2 separate regions of the Homo sapiens genome follow, and region 2 is linked to region 1. The links come from fine-mapping of genetic effects on gene expression. Tissue or cell type: lung. Region 1 holds a variant in brackets; the other region holds the start of a gene. All regions are shown on one strand. Distances are between the middles of the regions.

Region 1 (8,000 bases):
ATTTCTGAAACAACTATTTGATTTACCTGCTTGTATACTCAGAAAAAGCAAGTCTAAAGTGATAGGAAGATGCTGCTATTATTCTCAAGAGGCTTTTCAGGTTCCTCTCACAGCACTCAAAACTCCAGTTCAGTAATGTGCTAATGTTTTTCACTCATGAGTATGCTAAAGTAATTTGATACTATGCTGTCAAAAAAAAAATTTTTTTTTTTCCAGATCAGCACAAAGTTTATTAGCAATTTCTGCTCAGAAGAGCCCCCTTCTGACCAGGACTGTTCCTCTGACATACCAGACAGGAAATAGCCACACGTACAGGCCCTCACTCTCATTTATATCTCAAGTCACATCAAAAGGACATCTTAGAGCAATGGCAGTTGCCCCCCTGGGGTCCCCTGGGAATAGCTAAGGTGTGTGGCTGTCCAGAGTCCTATGACAGACCTTCAAAGTTTTAAGTTCCAGGAACCTGGTTTTTGCCCAAGTCCACACCCAAGGAATAGAAACCTTCCTTTCAGGTAAATATATTGTACAAAAAAAGGGGGATGATATCATAATAGAGAAATAGCTAACACCCAGTGCTTCTCCTCCTCTATAAAAATACCAAACTTTATCCAATACTTGTCCTCAACTGACGAGTATTACATACTGTTCTCTTTTCCATGAAGCTACTGAGAAAATCATCTATTTCCATCTTTCCCTCCAAGAAGTCTTCTGCAATATTATCAGATTCTTCCTCAGCTTCATGTGCAGCTACTTTCAATCTTGCCTGAAGGGCACTTGCACTACAGCTCTGAAAAAGAAAATCAGGCACTACTTTAATTTATGATACTCACAAGAACTCCTCACAGGGAAAGGAAGTAAGGTAGTGGTATGGAGAGGCAATTTATTATATGCCCTATATAGCCTCTTTTTGAGAAAATCTGCTGTCTTATAATGCCCCACCCAGGTCCTTAGCTTTTGGATAGGGGTAGACACCTAACTCAAGAGAAACTAATCTATTGGCTGCAAACTATTAAATGAGAGAAACTGGGAAAATCATTGTTCTCTCCTAAGGATTTACGAATTAAATCACTGTGGTAGATATATGCTAAGGAGACGCTCCACTAATGACCTCACCTCCTGGTATTCCTGCCCTTGCATAATCCCACCATTGAGTGTGGGCTGAACCTGACGACTCATTTCAATAGAATAAGGCAAAAATGATGGGATTAAATTTCACTAAAGCAGTGAAAGACTGATAAACAGAAAACTGTAGACACTGCTATAAGAAATTGAAGACATAAATTACTGGAAGACATCCCATGTTTATGGGTTGAAAGATTTAATATTCTTAAGAAGACATTACTAATCAAAGCAACCTATAGACTCAATGCAATCCCTATCAAAATCTCAAGGGCATTTTTTGCAAAAATAGAAAAACCTATCCTAAAATTCATACGGAATCTCAAGAGACCCCAAATAGCCAAAACAATCTTAAAGATGATTAATATTTCCTCATGTCAAGTTACTAACAAAGTTACAGTAATCAAAACTGTGGTACTGGCATAAAAACATAAAGAACAATGGAACAGAATAGACAGCCCAGAAATAAACCCTCACACATATGGCCAAATGATTTTCAACCAGGGAGCCCAGTCCAGTTAATGGGGAAAGGAATCTTTTCAACAAATGGTGCTGGAAAAAACTGGATTATCGACAGGCAAAGGAAAAAAGTTGGACCCTTACCTTACTTAAATACAAAATTGATTCCAAATGGATCAAAGACCTAAATCTAGGCACTAAAATGATTTTTTAATAATAGCTATCCTGCTTGACGTGGTGGCTCATGCCTGTAATCCCAGCACTGTGGGAGCCTGAGGCAAGCAGATGGCTTGAGCCTGGGAGTTCATGACCAGGCTGGGCAACATAGCGAGACCCCGTCTCTACAAAAAATACAAAAATTAGCCAGGTGTGGTGGCATGCACCTGTAGCCTTGGCTACTTGGGAGGATGAATTGGGAGGATCGCTTGAGCCTGGGAGGTCAAGGCTGCAGTGAGCTGTAACTGCAGCACTGCACTCCAGCCTGGGTGACAGAGTAAGAAAAAAAAAATAATGGCCATGCTAATGCATGTGGGGTAGTATCTCTTTGTGACTCATAAATAAAAATGAACTGTAATGCACCATTTTCTCATTGCCCTTGCCAAAACTGGTTATCTATCTTCACAAATATGGCTCACATGGATGTTTTATTTGGCTTTTTAAAAAATTACAGTAAAGTTGAACATATTTTCCAAAGTTTCCAGTTATTTATTCATTAAATATTTATTGAGTACCTATTATGTGCCAACCACTGAACCAGATATTAGGTGTACAGTAGAAATGAAACAGAACAGATTCCTCCATCACGGAACCAATGGTCTAATGAAGTGGTTTCCATATGTAAGAGCGCAGAAGATTCATCATCCCCAGAAAATTTTGACTGAGAACATCTAGAAAGAAGCCTAGGAATCATTGTTTTGTGTGTGTGTGTGTGTGTGTCTTTTTTTTAAGTGTTTGAAGAGTCACTTCCAGCAATTCTTATATGAATGTTTAAGGATCAGAATAACTGTTAAAGCAGAATCTTTATTGGACATTTATATTTCTCCTTTTGTCAGTTTCCTGTTGTTTCCTTTTCCAATAGACCACTGGCATTAGTATTTGTTGTATAGGCTAAAAATATCTGTACCCTTTTTTTAACTTCAATTTTGATTTCATGATTTTTTAATATATCTGAGTTTTCAATCTGTAGAGGTAAATATGTCGAGTTTTTCCTTTATGCTCATATCTGTTTTATTATGCTAAGAAAGGCTTTTCCCACCATAATCTTAAAGAAAAAATCCTAGAAGCTAGTTGACGTTTTATGGTTTCCGCTGAAGCAGTTTATCTGTAATAAACTTTCTGTGTATTGTATGATACAATGATCTAACCTTTTTCTAAATGGATACTAAATAACCAATTTTATAATTTATTGAATCCTCAATTTTTTCCAACTGATTATTCACATACACAAGTCTATTTTTGAACTACATAGTCTGTTCCATAGAAATAATTTTCTCTTCCTATAAAACTACTATACTGTTTTAAATAATGAGGATTTACAGTGTATTCTGATACTGGGAAAGGGAGTTTTTTTCATTTTTTCTTTTTGTTCAAGCTCTTCCTGACTACCCATCTGAAAAATAAAGTTTCAGATGAACTTTAGAATAAACTGTTAAGATAAAAAAAATATTCTTGGCATTTTGATAAGAACTGTATTCAATTTCTAAGTTATTTTGGGGAGAATGAAATCTTTTTAATAATGGATCTTTCATTCAATGAATATTCTATGCTGCTCTAAATAGTCTTAGAAAATACAAAACTCAGCTCTTCTTTTATGGCATTCAATAAAGTTTCCTAACTTACTTCATTGGGTTTACTTCTAAGTACTTTACAATTTTGTTCCTATGGTAAATGAGTTGTTTTCTGTACTTCATTTTGCAGTAGTAATTGCTGGAGCAAACAGGAAAAAATTTCTCAGTTCTCTAGAATTTTTGATTGTTTATTTTTGGTAAACAACTGTTTCATTTCTTCTTTTTATGTTATACCACTTTTTTTTGGTCTTGCAGTACTCAAAACCTCCCAAACAACGTTAAACAGCAGTGATCATGAGGCATTACTCTCTTATTCCTAACATTAATGGGATCCTAGAAATGTGTAGTAATTGTGAGGTTTACTGCTGGTTTCTAGTATTCTTTTTCAAATAAGAAATTTCTATTTTTAGTTTACTAAGAGTTTGTATAAAGAATGATGTTGAGTACTATGAAAGCTTCTTCAACATTTACTAAGGTCCAGTATATATCTAACAGTACTTCAGTTGAGTCTCACAGATTTTCTGTGAAGGAGGACTGCTTAGGTTACACTCCTAACTAATGTTTCTACTTGTATGACCTCAAGAAATTTATTTAATCTCCCTGTGCCTCAGTTTCCCTATCTGTAAAATGTAAAATGGGAAAAAGTAACAATACCTATTTCATAGGATTTGGTGTAATAATGGCCCAATATACGTAAATAGCTTCATGCGGTGCAAGACATATTAATTGCTCAA[T/C]GTTAGCTATTATTTCTTTATTCTGACAAATGACCGTATTATCTGAAATTCATTATAAATTTATATTCTCCTTTACCATCTTTTTTGCTGTTGTTGGTTTATGTCTATTTTATGTTTTATTTCATTGACTTTACCCAAAGTTCCTAATTTTACAGGAAACAGAATATTAACTATGAGGTTGTTATTGGTATGATACAAAGATTATGTCCTCTGGTTCCTTTTCAAAGATTCCTTTTTTTTCAGAAATATAGGTTGAATTTTATAAAATTCTTTTGATTTTCACATAACTGGATTTCTAGCATAAAACTTATTTGTAGCAGATAATACTATATATTTTTCATATATTATTCTTTTTAATTTGCGAACTTTTCATTTAAGGTATTTGTAGATAAGCTTACAAGTGAGTCGAAAGTTTTTGTTGTTATTGCTAGGTTTCACTACAAGTGTTACAATGGTTTCATAACTTACCCAGAAAAGTTATGTGTCAGGGCCTGTCATAATTTTCTGTTTTAGAAACAAATACGCTCTTATATGAGCACAAATAATGTATGATGCCTCATCACTGAGAGCTGTTCATCCACGTTTAAAGGTATCATGTCTTATAAGGTCAGATACCTCATAAATGGTTTCTGATGATAATGAAAGTGAGATCAGGACTCATGCACATAAGATTAAAAAAAAAATCTATGGCAAAGGGAAAAAAATAAACAGTCTTACCTCACTAAGTTCATGCTGCCTTTGCATCTTCTTTTCGAAAGTGGACTTCATCTGTGTAAGTAATTCATACTAAAAGAGAAAATGAAAAGGTTGTTTTATTCTATTTTTAAATTATGTAAATTTCTTCAAAATTATCACTAACTCACCTTATCTAAAACAGTTTGTCTTTTGGCTTCCAAGCTGGGCTCCAAAAGGAGATTTTTTCCTGTAAGATAAATCTCTAGTTTACTTCTAGGTAAAGATGAGATTTTTTTCAGGAAATGTGCGCTCAGGAGAGGGAAAACATACTTGCTAGTTCCTCAATACTTTTTACTAAGTCATCTTTGTCGGTAATAATTTGTTTTAGTTGAGGCAAAGTCAGAAACTGTTCTAGTAATACCTCCTCTTGTTCATTCATATCTGTGAGTTGTGACACACTAGAAACACAAAAGAAAAAATGTCAATAAATATCAGACATCGAGTTTTTCTCCATGACAACTATTTACAATTTTTCAGCTTTAGTTAACTGATAGGGTTCTAAATAATTTTTACATATACACCTAAGGCTGCCAGTTTTAACCTTAAAATCAAATAAAACATCAACCACAATGGAACATAGAGCAGTCTGTAATATATTCTTGACAGAATCTGTAAAAGTAAATTTTGGTCCAATGGATATATCGATATATCTACTTTCTTTAAAAATCACAACCGTGGGGAAGTGTTCACAGTTATACAGTGACCTGAAATTAAAAATAAAGTCAACTTAACTCAGGTAAAGAACAATGTATGAAACTAAGGAGCTTATTCAGCTTAGGTTTCTTAAAATAGGACAGCAGTAATATAGTTAAGTATTTTTTTCTTGTTCTTAATTCTGTTTAACTTAATTGCTTGAGAATATCACTTATTTCTTAAATTTCCCTGATAGGAACCAGACTTACTGATATGTAAAATTTAAGCTATTTATTTCTTCCAAGCATAATGTTGAACACACTAGTACTATAGTAAATTCAGACAAGTACAAGTTCACAGACAAGGTAGCATGAGAAGAATTTCTTCCTAGTCATTTCATTGTATGTATTGATAAGAGGGAAACAGAGCTGAAAAGAGGCCAGAGTAGTTACTGTAACATTTTGGCTTTTTCCTCTAGTCAGCTTTAGACCAGGTCAGTGCATGATTCCAAGGATGTGTTGGCCAAAATGTAGCCAGTAAAATCTCCCAAGACTCTACAAGATAAACAGTCTCTGCTAGTGTATAATGTCAGTTACTGTAGGACCAGTAAGACACGGCACATAAGCAGTCACAACAACTCCGTTTTAACCTCTGTGACTATTTAGCTTACAGATGTGTGGCTGTCACAGTAAGAGTTATAGATATGTTTATGTGTGTTTATGTATATGTGTGTACAGATATTCATAAAATATTTAAAGAAAAGAAATAATGGAGGGCTAAACCAAAAACAAAAATGGGTATCTGTAGGGTGAAAGAACTAGGTGGAGCAGATATGGATGGAAGCAAAACTTTTCTGAACGTATCTTAGTTTTGACTATGGAGCCATATAAAAACGTTGGATAATTTAAAAATAAAGAAGAAAAGAAAAAGCAGTCTTTAAAATTCAGGGAAAATGGACTGCTTTGAAAATAAATAAACCTGTATATTCTAAGTTATATCAACACCCAGAGAAAAATTATTTGGAGAGATTAAAAAAACAACAGTATATTCTGGCATGTCATATCCTAAAGACAACAGAACTGTAAAAAACAAAAACAAAAATTTAACCTGCATTCAATAATCTTAGTAACAGTACTGGTATTGTTATTTTGGAAAAGAACAAGCACCCTTCAGAGAAATGGCTGACTCTAGGTCTGGGAGAAGAAATGTTCATGATGAGCCCACAGCATCTTCACTTTGCCAAAAACGATACAGAAGGCAACTTGAGTTTCTCACCCATCAGAGCAACTTTTGGAGACAGATAGTGCAGCAACTCATTATTGTGACAGGTGATAATATAAGGGGAAAAATTTAAGCATTTTTCTTGGTCCTGTATGAAGTATACTTCAGTATAACTAAATATGTAGTTGATTAAGTCAAGTTCTTCATAGAGTAATTCTGGTTAATAAATTCTGGTGGTAATGATAAAATCATTAAATCATATTTATGACCCTTGCTATATTAATGATGGTCAATGATTTCAGGTGCTTTAACCTGATATAATCTTAATGTCACTAAAAAAAGGGCAACCAGACCTCACTGCTGCCTCATAGGATGTAAAAAGAAGCATGCAGTAATTATGACATAAGTATTGGCAAAAGAATTGAACCTTGTCTACTTCTAGCCACCAGCAGCATAAACTATGGGAAACAGAGAAACATCTTCAATGGTACCACAAGGAGGCACTAAGGAAAAAACAGGATATGGAAAATTTTATAGGACAAATAACCAATTTAATAAACACACACTATGTCTAATATACACGCATGGATGTATGTACATGGACATGTATTTATTCCCATATTTGTGTACATGTATACGAACATATGTAAATACACATATGTATATGTCTGTGTGTGTGTGTGTGTGTGTGTGTGTGTGTGTGTGTGTGTATAAAAGAGAAAAGTTGGGGAGAAATGGTTCATTATTAAAAGGAACTTAAGAGATCCACTATCCAAATGCAATAGGTGGAACTCGTTTTGAATCCTGATTCAAACAAACTGCCCACAAAAATATTAATTATTAAGACACTGGAGAAATAAGGTAATATTAAAGAATTACCATTAATTGTGTTAGGTATGATGATGATGGTGACTGGGGTTATGGTTAAAAGGAAAGAAAATCCTTACCTGGTAGAAAAATTTACTGAAGAATTGATGGGTTAAAAAGGATGTATTATCTGGGATTTGCTTTAGAATAATGGTGACTCATACCTACAGCCCTCCAAGAAAGCTGGATAGAAGAGGCATGAAGCATGGTGAGCAAAAGGGTTTATAGCTGTTGTTGCCACATGATGGATACGTGGTGGCTCATTATACTAGTTTCTTCACCTTTTTTGCATTTTTGATGTTTTCATAACAATTATTTAAAAAAAATTTAAAGCAAAAAAGATAATCTTATTAAATGAGAACTCCTACCTTATGGGGTTATTGTGAGCATTACAATGCATATTAACCTTTAATGTATGCAGTATATTGTAAATATTCATTTTATT
Region 2 (8,115 bases), 34 kb after region 1:
CAATAAGCTGGCTAGAAGCTTATAGGCTAAGAGGCAAAGATTCAAGCACACTGATTCTATGCAGTAGAAAGAAGGAATGTAATTCGTCCTATGCCTACTATGTGCTAGATACTCTTCCAAATGTCTTACATATATTTTTTAGTTATCAAAAATCCTGCATGACAGGAATCACAATTGCTGATTTTACAGATAGGAATTGGAGGATCAGGGTTGTCTCACATAAAAATATCCAAAACATGAGACATTTCTTCCTCCCAGTCATTTGTTACTATTGCTGAGAAAACATTTTGAGCAGCTCCCCAGCAGACTTCCCCTCCAACTCCCACTAACCAAGAGTCCTGCTTCCACAGTAACTTGGGGGGAAGGGTGATGAGACCATCATCACTGGCATAAACAATCCTTATTCACCTCTAGTGGAGGCTGGGTTGAAAGATTCCAGCCTCCACAAAGTATGGGCCTTGCAGAGGGAAAAACCAACAGTGTCCATAAAGTCAGCTTCCTCAGGAAGTATAAGAAACAGAATTAGTTCTACTCCTGTCCATAAAGTCAGGAGTTTTGGTGATAAACTGAATACTGTGGTAAGTGATACTTAGAAGAGAGAACATATTACTTGAGCCCAGGAGGCATAATTTCTAGTTTCCATTTTCACAGCTGACTTAAACACTTTGGTTAAACACTTTTCTGTGAGTGTCATCTATGACAGTTATCTCATTTGCCGTGCATATTGTTGAGACTCAGATGAAAAAATTTACATAAAATTCACCTATTTTTTTTGTAGAAGACTGAGGTAGCTGAGGAGATAAGAATTTAAGGCAACTAAAAAGTTCACAATCATTAGAGAAAGGGACAAAAAGAGACTGCTGAAGTGGAATTTTCGGAATTATAAGGGGTTAAAAATTGTAAGAGTTGGAAGGGAGATGACAGAATGGGGTAGAGAAAGGTTACTCAGTAGAGCAGAAGAAAAGATACTTTCATGGCCAAAAAAAGATATTCACCTATTGAGCTTACATTTGGAGAAGAGACATAAAACGAAACATGAGGGAGATGGACAGCATGTAACAAGATATTGATATTCCTCATGTAACAAGTTTTTGTACTGTTCATAGGAAAAAACACACTGGAAATTCTTTCAACTTTTACACACCACACCTTTAGAATAACCAATCTGTCTGTTCGCACAAAAATCTTTTAAGTGTAAGTCGTACCACTAATTTAGGTAATCAGGCAACATATTGCCAGTATTGGGGCTCAGAAAACAATACCCCAAAATATTGCACTTTGGTAGGCTGATTACTTTGAATTAAAGGAGTCTGGAGGGCCTCAGAAGTAAAGCTCTCTCTGACCACCTCCTGCCCCTCTTTCTCCATTGAAGAAGTCATAGAAACCAGAATTCCTCCTCCCCTGGGCGGTATATTACAAACTACAACCCTTCTTCCCTACAAAAAATCTAGAAAGGTCACTTTCCCTTCCGCCCTGAAGACCCTCACTCCATATGAGCCCGGGCCGGTCCACTAGAGGAGTAGAAAGTTATACAGAGAAGCCAAGAAAAATCTGAACAAACAGGCCTTGGTGGGTTTCCCCTACCTCTGTCTATTACCATTACCATACTCTTTTTGTCCAATCACATTTCTACATGGCTGTCCATTCTTCATTGAACCTAATCATAAATACAGACAGTTTTCCTTCGGTCTCTGGGGCTTCATTTCTGAAGGCTCCCATGCAGTGTAAAACTTTGATTAAATAAATCTGTTATGCTTTTCGCTTGTTAACCTGTCTTTTGTTACAGGAGGGTCAGCTGTGCCCCTTATGACTGATGAGAAAAAATATCACACCTTTTCCATCTTTACATCAGATACCATACAGACAGATTATTTTTTACCTCCCAGCTTACAAATATATGTCATTATTTAAAAGGGTGGACTAACAAGAATAGGTGAGTGGCATTTTCCAGGATTGTGCCATTCTTTGAAAACTGGAAGCATATGACCTACTTAAGTGTCTCCGGAATTATTCGAGTATAATTTGTAAATGCGAAACATCTCAATAAAACTTCAAGTGTTTTTATAAAAGAACTTAAAACAATAAAATACTTAGTTATTTGTTCATAACACTACAAAATAAATTACATTATCTAATGTAATCATGTCCAATCATACGTTCATAATTTCTGGTTCAAAAAATAATACATAAAATGAATCCTTTCTGTATCCAACTCCGCGTATTTACTGATCCTCTTAAGCCAATTCCAGAACTCTTTACATTAACAATTGCTGCTATAGAATCTCACTTTATTTGGGAGGCCAAAATTATAAATTTCACATCAATTACTTCCCTTACTTACCAGCCTTAGCAGCAAGAGACTTTGTAGTATTTAAAAAATTAAACTCCAACCTCGAAGAAAAAAATTAGTCAGCATTGAAAATATTTAACATAATACTACATACTAAGGTTTAAAAGCAATTAATTCCAAAAGTGTGGTTCTAAAAAAGTGTTTCTGCAATAGCAGGACTGGTTTGGTATATAGTCTACCAAGGTAACAACTTCTAAGGGAACAAACATGTTAAAAACGAGTCCCCTTATTTTATAAGCATACCTTGTGAGAGTAGCTCTTAAAGGTCAGTACAGAACATGATTTGGAGTAAGAGTGACTTGTAAGAACTTTGCGAACTTAATTTTCCAGAATGAAAGCCACCAATAACAGCCTGCCATTCTTTTCTGTTAAACAGCATAAAATTTCACCTTTTGAAAGTTCTGAACAAACAGAACAATTGAGACAACGAACCAAGAAACACCTAAAGTTCAGTCAGCATCAGGCCTTATTTTAGCCAAACTGATTTTGCAGTAAATTTTTCTATTAACTAGACTATTTAATTAAAAATTATTCCATTTTAAATAAGAATTATTCGATATTATCTGAGGATACATATTTTTTAACTGTATGAAAATAATATTTTTAAAAGGGCTAGGAGCCCGGCGAGGTGGCTTATTCCTGTAATCCCAGCACTTTGGGAGGCCGAAGCGGGTGGATAATCTAAGGTCAGGAGTTCGAGACCAGCCTGACCAATGTGGTGAAACCCCGTCTCTACTAAAAATACAAAATATTAGCCGCGCATGGTGGCGCGCACCTGTAATCCCAGCTACTCGGAGGGGTGTGGGGAGCTGAGGGAGGATGATTGCTTGAATCCGGGAGACGGAGGTTGCAGTGAACCGAGATCGCGCCACTGCGCTCCAGCCTGGGCAACAGGAGAGCCGTACCCCCGGCAAAAAAAAAAAAAAAAAAAGGGGTTAGGGACTTAACAATGTTGTCATCTTTATTTAAAATAGTGTGAAACTGTTAAGTAAATATACTTGCAAAATGCATAAAATATAAAGAAGCAGTTCTAATTTTTGAAAACCATTAGAGACCATAGACATTTGCAATGTAAAAGGCTGCAGCAAACCAATTTACAGTAAAAGTTGAAATAATATGAATTGTAAAAATATTTCTAAACTGACCATGATAAAATGAAAAACTCACAGGAAGACAACAGAACAATCAAGATGAACATAAAGTAATTCTTGAGCGTGGGGACAAGACTATGAAAGAAGTGAGAAATGTACATGCACTGGTCGCTGTGAGATGGGGAGAGACTGCTCCAACAGGGTAAATCTTAGAGACTCAAGAAGACTGACTACGTGATAAGTGACTCTCAGACGAGAAGCATTCACTGATGAAAACTCTGGCTTCCCTTTCCTTTGATGTTGCAACAGTTCTATTTTCCATTCTTTGTGAAACCTGGAGATTACTCTTCACAATTGTATTTTAACAATTCTGCTGACGCGGCAATCAGGTGGGCAAAGGGAAAGATCAGTGGCGAAGCCTGGGCAGCAAGGGATACTGGAAATAGACTATGAGAGAGATTGAGAGATTACAGTCAGCAGCTATGTGTCAGGAGGGATGAGGAAATCCGAGTTAGAAGCGCTGAGCAGTGGTGCGGCAGGAGGCAGGGAGGGTCCGGAGGAAAACAGTAAAAGGGGGCAGGAGTGGCAGAGCAAGCGTGTGACCCACAACCAAGGGAGGTAAACCACATGAGGAGCTGGTGGGGAGCAGACTGAGGCGCTGTGAGGGTGGTTAGGACAAGCCCGCCCTCCCACCCTACTTTTTCCTCCGGTGGAGAGGCAGCGACCAGTCACCTGGAGTGTGAGTTCCGGAGGGACTCGATCAGGCGCTGCTTCTGCTGCTGGAGGCTGGTGAGGCCACCGGGGGACCCAGCCGCGGAGGAGGAGGCGCTCTTGGTCAGGGGAAAAAGCCAGCTCATCCTCCTCGGGTCCACGGGCCGGAGGCCCTGGAAGGCTCTGGCCTGCTTCTCCCAGTGGCTCGGCCCGGCGGTTCTCCAGCGACAGAGGAGCGGGGTGGGACGTCCGTGGCCCAAGCGCTGGGGACCGCGTCTTCTCTAAGCCTGTCCTGCCTGCGCTCCCCGAGTTCTGGGGGACATGCTACGAACGGCGGGCGGCTGGAGAGGGAAACTTGCGGCCCGGAACAGGAGGTCCCACCTTCACGGCCCAGACGCCCAAACCGGCCAGCCAGGGAGCCTGGCCGCCCAGCGCTCCACCACCCGCGCCGCCGTCACTTGCGTGCCCCGCCCCCGGGGGCGCTCTCCGCCCCCTCTGCGTGTCGCGTCATCATCTAGCGCCCCCGTCAGGACGTGCGAAAAGCGACGGCGCAGCACGGTGCGGCGCAGCTCCTGCTCGCCTTTCCCTTCGCTGGGCGAGAGGTGTCTATGGGGCACCCGCTGCCGCCGCCGCTACCGCCACCGCCACCGCCACCGCCGCCGAGTGCTGTCTCTATGGCGAGGAGGAGGAGGAGGAGCGCGAGCTCAGCGACACAAGTAGATCTTGCATCCGCTGCAGCCTTACGGGGGGAGGGGCGGGTTAGGGAAGTAGAAAGGGGGCGGGGACGATGAACCTGAGAGGGTGCGCGATGGCGCCAGCTGGAGTGCGGCTGGCGGAGGAAGGAGCCTGGCGGCGGGTTGGGGGCTGGGTAACTGGGGCTGGGGGTTTGTCAAGGGGTTGGCGCGTAGTGATGACGCAAAGGCTTTGTACCTGGGGCTTCGCAGTGGGACGGAAATTGGGAGTGGAGGGCGGTGGCCTAGATCCTCACCTCTTCGTATTGTTTCACGCGGCAGTGCTTGGGAGTCAGTGTAGCTCCAGTCAGTGTTATCAGCACCTTCGCACTGGCGCTTTGCCAGGGAAGAGAGTTATCTATGGCTTGAATACCTCGGTGCCGTCCTCTCGTTTCTCTGGGAAACTGCAGTACGGAGATGCTTTCTCCAGTAATGAGAAGGCCTTTGGTGTCTCTTCGGGGCTTCTGGGACTGCAGTAGAGAGAGAGGTGGAGGAAAACAATGTTAGACTACAGGGTCTTTCCAAGTCTTTGTGTTTTTGTGCTTATGTGTGTGTGTGTGCCTATCGGGGTGGGAGAGTTATAAAGGAGGGGTGTCCTGGATCTCCTTTAGTTTCTCTACTTGGAGAATTGGAAGTTACATTTGTGACTCTTCAGAGTTTAGAAGACAGTCATAAGACCCTCTTTTTACTCTTGTTTTTTTTTTTTCCAATTTGTATGAAAAATGCAGAAGGATTTGAAATTTCCCTGCCCAAGAATCAACAGGAACTCTGTTTATAGACCAGAAATGTGACATCTATCTTTGGTAACCATGCAATATGCTCTAAGTTTTAGACGTTCTATTGTGTTCTTTTTCCGTTCTGCAACTGCGAACATTCAGATAATTTTCATGGCCGTTACTTTTTTCTCAGAGCATTTACAAACATTTTTGACCCCTCTAGTCTAGTTAGAATAAACGCCGGTAAAGTAGATCTTGTTATCAAGTCGGATTTTGGTTGTTTTATTAATGAGGAATAAAAATAAACACCATCTTTGCCATGGTAACATCTGATCTTGTCACATGTAAATAAGTAATTTTTCATTTTTTGTCTGGAAATGGATGGCTTTATAAAGTTTTATGCAGAGTAGTTGAACTCAGATAAATAATTAGTGGAAAGTTATAAAATATGATTAGTATGTATGTGTAAAAAAGCTATTTTAAAATAACTGAAATTAGGACCAGGAAATCTGTACTGTAGTCCTTTTTTTCCTATAGACTAGCTGTGTGACCTTAAGTTACTTTCTAAACTTTGATTTTTTTTTTTTATGAGTCAAGAACTTTGAATAAATAACTTCTTAGGTTCCTGCTGGATCAATTATTCTGTGATTCAGATTTGATATATCTGGTCTTCATATTGTTTTTTTATTTTGACAGGTACATAAATAAAGGATAAAATATTTTATGAAACAAATCTTCAATCAAGTATAACATTTTGATGCTTGGCATCTAGACTCCCTTGTGCCCTCACTATGCCAGCGGCAACTGTAGATCATAGCCAAAGAATTTGTGAAGTTTGGGCTTGCAACTTGGATGAAGAGATGAAGAAAATTCGTCAAGTTATCCGAAAATATAATTACGTTGCTATGGTATGCCCACAAGCAGATCTTTAAAACGCTTCATATAAAGGAGGAAAAGGAAATTTTAAAGTCTTGAATTCAACCCTTTTGGTTGATATTTTTAGGGATTAATTTCACCATGAAAAGTAAAATTTGTCACTGCCCTCCAGCCAAAATCCATCAGGAATACACCTGTGATTTGACAGGTTGGGTTTATCCCTCATTGCAGTGAGGGAAAACGCACTGGAATTCATGGGAACCATGGGCCGTTTGAATAAGAGTTAGGAAGGATTTGGGCTCGTGTCAGGTGGTCTTAGGGGAAGGTAAGGGAAGCAGAGCTTTACTGTGGATTGGATGTGTTCGGGAAGCTGGGGTAATTCTGTGATTGGGTATCTTACTAAGTCTTAAATGAGAGACTAGAATGAGGTTAAAGCTGCAGAGAAGGAACAGTCATTCATTTAGCCAGGATGGAGATACTTGGTCATTTTGTGGTTTGACATTTTTATTTTTTTGTCCTTGTTCAGACATGATTACAGAGTGGCCTTATTTGAGGTTGAACTTTTGTGAAATTGTGTTCAACAGGAGAACATTAGGGCGTGGCTATGAGTGCCAGGTCTGCTCCTAGCAACACCAAAGCCTAGCTGGTAGTACCACATGAGCTCCCAGAAGCTAGGGTGCTCTTTCTCAAACAAAAAAATCAGATGTGCCAGTGAAACGTTGTTGGTCTGCAATTTGTTTTCATAATTAACACTGGAGTTCTGTGAATATACTGTGTTACTAAGCAACTCTGCTTTTGCACGTGCTGTTTGGTCTGCCTAGATTGTCTATCCAGTTAATGATTTTTCTTCTTTACCATTATACTGTCTATATCTGTTAGCTACCCTACTGTTTTCTACATCCACTGGATTATTATTAGCTCCATAAACCAAGTGTTTTAATCCTTTCTCTCCCAACACCTAGCATAACACATATAGTATTCAATAAAGTGGCTGTTGAATTGCACTGAATTTAGAGAAATATTGATTTCTTTACTATTTCATAGTGACTTGATAGGTAGTTTTTATTCTTAGCTAGCCCTAGTTTGAATTCTAATACTAAACCGATGTATCTTTGTCTCAGTATTTTTAATAAAAATAAACAAATGCATTACTTTGGGGAGGAGCAAGTTGATTGGTTAAAATATGACTGTTTCTTTGTAGATGACATACTATTTGATAAAGGTGTACTTACCCATGATTAGAACTAAAATTGTTTTCTTAACCAATGGAAATTCATAGTGATCATTGATTTCTCAGATGATAAAGAGTGGCAACATAGAGAAGTGATAACATCCTACAAGAGTGAGTAGGTGGCATGCAATTCTTGACAGCATGCTTTCTGTGGACTATAGAGAGAATATTGTTTAAGCCAGAGAAATTAGGAAGCTAATGATGTTTTTCTTAGGGTTTTGGTGTTGAGAAAAACCTTGTGTCAGAGAAGCAATTGGAAAGTACAGGGCGTTTTCCCCTCTTTTGAACCAGTTCTTCAAGAAACTTGGTTTTAGCATTGGAATACTGTGAGCATCATTTCATGTATCCTTTGGGAGACAGGAATTTATGATTTTCCCCCCTTTCTTGGTTATAGAGTAAGTATTTGGTT

Evidence for each region. PIP is the estimated chance that this variant, and not a neighbour inherited with it, causes the effect.
Region 2: it holds the start of VPS37A, and the variant in region 1 is fine-mapped to the expression of VPS37A in lung (TOPMed, PIP above 0.99).

Annotation. Positions count from the first base shown.
Region 1 is chr8:17,277,260-17,285,259 of GRCh38, reverse strand. VPS37A (VPS37A subunit of ESCRT-I) reads right to left here. Exons shown (of 12, transcript NM_152415.3): 7 at 5,105-5,232; 8 at 4,963-5,021; 9 at 4,817-4,885; 10 at 644-787. Among named protein-coding and RNA genes, the nearest start is that of VPS37A, 34 kb to the right of the region's middle. The variant T/C (reference allele first, on the strand shown) is at 4,100.
Region 2 is chr8:17,243,428-17,251,542 of GRCh38, reverse strand. VPS37A (VPS37A subunit of ESCRT-I) reads right to left here and starts at 4,585. Exons shown (of 12, transcript NM_152415.3): 1 at 4,174-4,585. The coding sequence starts at 4,298. CNOT7 (CCR4-NOT transcription complex subunit 7) reads left to right here and starts at 4,686. Exons shown (of 7, transcript NM_013354.7): 1 at 4,686-4,868; 2 at 6,296-6,507. The coding sequence starts at 6,391. RefSeq lists an enhancer at 4,089-4,937.